2 separate regions of the Homo sapiens genome follow, and region 2 is linked to region 1. The links come from fine-mapping of genetic effects on gene expression. A gene starts in region 1. The other region holds a variant in brackets. All regions are shown on one strand. Distances are from middle to middle.

Region 1 (2,913 bases):
GCAGGACAAAATATCCCAAACCCTCTAAACCCAATTACTAATTCTAGTGAATTGTTAAGTCGACCCAGTGAGAGTTTGGGACGCCCTCCATGACACAAGCAGGGGGCCAGGGAACAGCATATTATACTCTGTATGTATGACTGCAAACTTTGTCATCACTCCATTCCACAGACTTCATAAAAGTAAAAGCTTTTTGTTTCTTTGTCTGAACAAATGGAGCCACAAGCATAGGATGCCTGCAAGATGTCCCCACTTCAGTGGGAGAGGTGCAAATACAACTTCCACGAAGAAACTCGCTACTGAAGTCTGCAGAAGCCACCGCAACACACCGCAAACCTCCATTCCGCGATCGCTGAATGACAGAGACATTTCTGAAATGTCTCAAACCTGCTGTTCATCTGTGGCCTGGTGGCCGTGTCAAAAGCCTGCGGAGCTCCTAAAGAAGGCACTAATCCTCTCCGGAGGTCTTGCTAAAAGCTGTGGGAAACGAAGGGAGCCAGGCACGTACGCTTTCCTGCAATCTAAAACTTCCGAGATTGCATTTACCAAAACCCCTTTCCACAAAGAGGTAAGGGTGACTTAGCTGCTACTGTGGATATCAAGATCGAAATTCAATTAAAAACAAAGCAAAGGTACCCGTTCCAGTAACGTATGTTTCACTCCAGTAAAAAGTAAAAAGACACAGCAAAGAACAAGGTCCCCGGTTCCCGTATTCTTGACCTTCAAGAACTGCAAAAAAGTCAAGACCCAGTGAAAGACGAAAAGTTTGAGTGGCTGCTGGGCTCGCGGGCGGCTCGCCTGACTCCGGAGCAGCTGGAGGAACCCGCCTCGAGGTTAGGGTCTCGCCGCGCCCCCACGACGGCTGTGGGCGCAGAGCCCAGAGGATGGAGCCTCCCCTTCCTGAAACCCGCTCGAAGCTCGGAAAGCCCCGGCCCCTCCGCGCGGGCTGCGGCCCCCAGGCTCCTTCCCCGACGCGCCCGAGGGCGCGGACCAGCCCCCGGCACGCGACCCCGCACACTTCCGGGCCCGACGCCCTGGCCGCTCGCCCACTTACCGGCATCATCTTGGACCCGAACCGCATGGAAGCGGGTGGCCAGACTGCGGCCCCGGCCGAGCTGAGGTGCCCCGGAGGGTCGCGGATGCGGGGGAGGGGAGCGGAGAGCGAGGCCGCCCGGACCTGTTGCGAGGCGGCGGCGGCGGCAGCGGCGGCGCGCGGGTCCGAAGGGCCCTCCGCGCGGGCTGGGGCACCAACAAGCCCCGGGCTCCCCCGCCCCGGCCGGGCCCCCTGACGCGGCTTTGTCTCTTCGACGCTCGTGACGGTCGGGGCTCCCTCCTCCGCTCCGAAACCAACTAATCCCGGGTCGGGCCCCAGCCGAGCCCGTGCCGGCTCCGCCCCCCGCGCCGACCCCGCCCGCGGCGCGCCCGGCGGCCTGGGGGAGGGGCGGCCGCGGGAACGGGAGCTGCGCGCGCCTGCGCGGGCCCGGCTGGGTAGACGGGGAGCGGCGGGAGCCGGCCGCCTTTTCTTTCTTCGCCCCGGACTGAAGTGCGGTCGGGGCCGCGCGGCGGAGCGGCTGGAGCGCGCGCCTCCTAGCGGAGCCGGGGCAATTGGAAGGCCGCGCCTCAGGAAAACAGGATGGTAGTGAATGGCACCGAGCCGCCCCAGGGCTGCCGCCGTCACCTCCTCGGCGGCTCCGAGTCGTGCGAGGCAGGGGACCCTTTGCCTTCAGAACAGGGCGCCCGACGTTGGGCGCGTGGACAGAGTCCTCCGGCGGCCGCGCCGCTGGGCCAGGCGGAGAGAGGCGGACGGACTTCAGGGGAGGCCCGGGCCACGCCGCGGAAACTACCCGACTCCCTGGAGGCGGCCAGGACCGACCCTGTCCCGACAAAATGGAGTTCCCCGTGTGGCTTCAGCTCGCGGCGCGTTCCCAGAGCTCCTCAGTGATCCGGCTTTCGGATTGTTCGCCTTTCATCTCATTTGCCGTTGTCCAAATTCTAATTTAAAACTCATGTGTTACTTGCTGTAAGGTTAACAAACGTACACCGCAAACTGGATAAAGGGATAACTTTTATGTTGTGTATGTTTTACCACAATAAAAATAAATTTTGTAAAAATGTGTCAGGCAGCATTCTGAGGAGCTTCCCTGGGGGGTGCTGGGAACACCCTGCAAACAGCCTCCGATACGGGGAGCCGGTGGATACCATCCTTTTCCAGGGAGGGAGGCCAAGGCCTAGGGAAATGGCAGGGCTGCCTTCCAAAGAGTAGCAGAGCGGGTTCAGGCTTTTATTCCACCTTCCAGAGAGACACATACTGCGGGAACCCTAACTCCAGGAAGCTTTGTTCTAGTAAGTTGTCAGTGCAAGTTCACTCAGAATCACTTTTCTCTGCCTTTATACATGATTCTAGAACCTGAAGTGGGGTAAATCCCCTGGGTTTATCTAGTATCAAGAACAGACAATTCTTTCTTAGCCCACCATATCCCTTACCAGAATCTCCATCGAACTCCCTATTGCACCATCCCAGATACTGTATCTGGAAATACTAAATTACGGTTAATTCAACTAGAATTTAACGTTCTCGCCCGGGCGCAGTGGCTCACGCCTGTAATCCCAGCACTTTGGGAGGCCGAGGCGGGCAGATCACCTGAGGTCAGGAGTTCGAGACCAGCCTGGCCACGTGGTGAAACCCTTGTCTCTACTAAAAATATAAAAATTAGCCGGGCATGGTGGCGCATGCCTGTAATGCCAGCTACTCGGGAGGCTGAGGCAGGAGAATCTCTTGAACCTGGGAAGCGGAGGTTGCAATGAGCAGAGATCACCCCACTGCACTTCAGCCTGGGCAACGAGAGTGAAACTCCATCTGAAAAAAAAAAAAAGAATTTAACGTTCTCAAAAAATCTGGTTTATAGTCTTGTT
Region 2 (2,913 bases), 210 kb after region 1:
CCCTTCATGACCCCATCCACCTTAACACCTGCTACTCAAAGATGGGGTTTCACCAGCCCTTCAGTCCATCTTCTCCAGCCTGGGCTTAGTCAGGAGATGTTTCAAAGCCTTCTTCCTTAAATTCATCTTGCCACAGTACTATCATTATTTACTTTTCCCAAACAAATTGAAAATGAGAAGGTGTGTCCAAAAGGAAACTTGGAAACAGAGACACCAAAAAAATTCAGGTAATGCATGGCACTCGCCTAAGAAGTCCTTCCACTTAACTGGATTCCAACACATTGGTTATTCTTTGTTTCCCTGGTTCTTATACTGCTTGTCAACGATCAAAACGTCAGAAAATAATTAACATCATCAACAGCAGGACAAACTGACAGTTATGAGTTTCCTGATGTACAGCCCCAGGAAGGATGAACCACCACTTCCGGCTATTGTCACCATGTTCTCATGTATAGCCTGAATCTCATCATGAGAAAACATGAAACAAACCCAAACGGAGAGACAGTCTCTAAAACTACAGGCCTACACACCTAACAGCAAGGTCATGAAAAATAAACCAAAGCTGAGGAGTTGTTCCAGATTAAAGGAGACTAAAGAGTCATCTCAAGGAGATTATTAAGACAAGTGGTAAAATTTGAACAGGGACTGTATATTAGATAACAATATTATATCTAGGTTAAATTTCCTGAATTTTCTAATTGAGCCACGGTGATAGGGTTTGGCTCTGTGTCCCCACCCAAATCTCATGTCGAATTGTAATCCCTGCATGTCGGAGGAGGGGCCTGGTGGGAGGTGATTGGATCATGGGGACAGACTTCCCCCTTGCTGTTCTCGTGATAGAGTAATCACAAGATCTGGTTGTTTGAAAGTGCATAGCACTTTCCCCTTCACTCTCTCTCTCTCCTGCCTCACCATGGTAAAACACACTTGCTTCCCCTTCACCTTCCTCCCTGATTGTAAGTTTCTGAAGCCTCCCAGTCATGTTTCCTGTACAGCCTGCAGAACTGTGAGTCAATGAAACCTCTTTTCTTCATAAATTACCCAGTCTTAGGTAATTCTTCATAGCAGCCTGAGAACAGACTAATACATGT[A/G]GTTATGCAGGAGAACGTTCTTAGGAGATTTCTGCTAAAGTATTTTGACATAGAAGGGCACCAATCATTTAGGAAAAAAGTAATGTGAATACGTAGAGAGTAATAACATAGGGAGTGATAGGCAAATGTGGCAAAATGTTAAGAATTGGGGTAAAGCAATGTGGAAATTTTTTTCATAACACTGCTGTAAGTTTGGGATTATTTCTAGAAAGAGAAAAGAGAAAACACAAAAATGGAACATTCAAAAATCAGATCCTTCACCTCTATTTTCTGATAGATTATTCATGTAAGAAAAGGTGAGAGTTTACCTGCAACTCTCCTATCAGTAGCATTTTTAAGTTGAGTAGTAATAGTGATCATTGGGAAAGGGATTCGGTTATTTGGTTACATGGACTGTATGAGTTCATTTTCACACTGCTATGAAGAAATACACGAGACTGGGTAGTTTACAAAGGAAAGAAATTTAGTTGACTCACAGATCCACATGGCTGAGGAGGCCTTGGGAAACTTACAATCATGGTGAATGGGGAAACAAACAAGTCCTTCTTCACATGGTAGCAGGAGAGAGAAGAAGTGCCAGCAGGGGGAATGCCAGACGTTTATAAAACCATCAGATCTCATGGTACTCACTCATTATCATGAGAATGGCATGGGGTGGAACCACCCCCATGATCTAATTACCTTCCAAGAGGTCACTCCCCCAACATGTGGGGATTACAATTTGGATTACAATTCAAGATGAGATTTGGGTGGGGACACAGAGCCAGACCATACCGTGGGTCTACCAGCTTTTTTCCCTCATTAGAGAGAAGGCATTGATTTGCCTCATAGGTTCTCCTAATTAATCCTGAGGTCCTGTACCCATCTGGTCCAATGGAGAGTTTGCCCTTCTATGTTCACAAATAATAGTAGTGGATGAGCCAGGCGCGGTGGCTCACGCTTGTAATCCCAGCACTTTGGGAGGCCGAGGCCAGTGGATCACCTGAGGTCAGGAGTTTGAGACCAGCCTGGACAACATGGTGAAACCCCGCCTCTACTAAAAATACAAAATTAGCCCTGTGTGGTGGCGCATGCCTGTAATCCCAGCTACTTGGGAGGCTGAGGCATGAGAATCGCTTGAACCCGGGAGGCAGAGTTTGCAGTGAGCTGAGGTCACACCATTGCACTCCAGACTGGGCAACAAGAGCATAGTATATCCACTACAAAATAGTAGTGGATAAGTATTAAATGCTTATATATGAAACACTGTACCTTCTTAATTTTTATTTTATTTTTTAAAATTTATTTTTGAGACAGTGTCTTACTCTATCGCCCAGGCTGGAGTGCAGTGGCATGAATGGCTCACTGGAGCCTCATCCTCCTGGGCTAAGCAATCCTCCCACCTCTGCCTCCTGAGTAGCTGGGACCACTCAGCTATGCACCACAGGTATGCGCCACCATGCCTGGCGCTAGTTTATTTATTTTTTGTAGAGACAGGTTTCCCCATGTTGCCCAGGCTGGTCTTGAACTCTTGTGCTCAAGTGATCCTCCCACTTTGGCCTCCCAAAGTGCTGGGATTACAGGTCTGCACTACCACACCCAGCCATGCTAACCTTTTAATAGCATTAAGGCATTTAATTCTCACAAGAATACTCTAAGCTATGTACTATTATTTACCCATTTTTACAAATGAAGAAACTGAGGCACAGAGAGGGCAATACATTTCATGACCTCACAAAATGACTTGGTGGATGAGCCAGGAATTGAAATCAGGTGAATCTGGCACCAGCGTCGATGCTCTTAACCATGCTACTACACGACATCTAGGCAGAAAGAGCCCTTG

What was found. PIP is the estimated chance that this variant, and not a neighbour inherited with it, causes the effect. A credible set is the group of variants that fine-mapping cannot tell apart.
Region 2: its variant is the best candidate, but not a certain one, in a credible set for the expression of TP53BP2 in whole blood (TOPMed, PIP 0.81).

The regions. Positions count from the first base shown.
Region 1 is chr1:223,844,600-223,847,512 of GRCh38, forward strand. It overlaps TP53BP2 (tumor protein p53 binding protein 2), which reads right to left and starts at 1,348. Exons shown (of 18, transcript NM_001031685.3): 1 at 1,055-1,348. The coding sequence starts at 1,081. RefSeq lists a silencer at 1,176-1,485.
Region 2 is chr1:224,053,237-224,056,149 of GRCh38, forward strand. No RefSeq gene overlaps it. Among named protein-coding and RNA genes, the nearest start is that of FBXO28, 59 kb to the right of the region's middle. The variant A/G (reference allele first, on the strand shown) is at 1,092.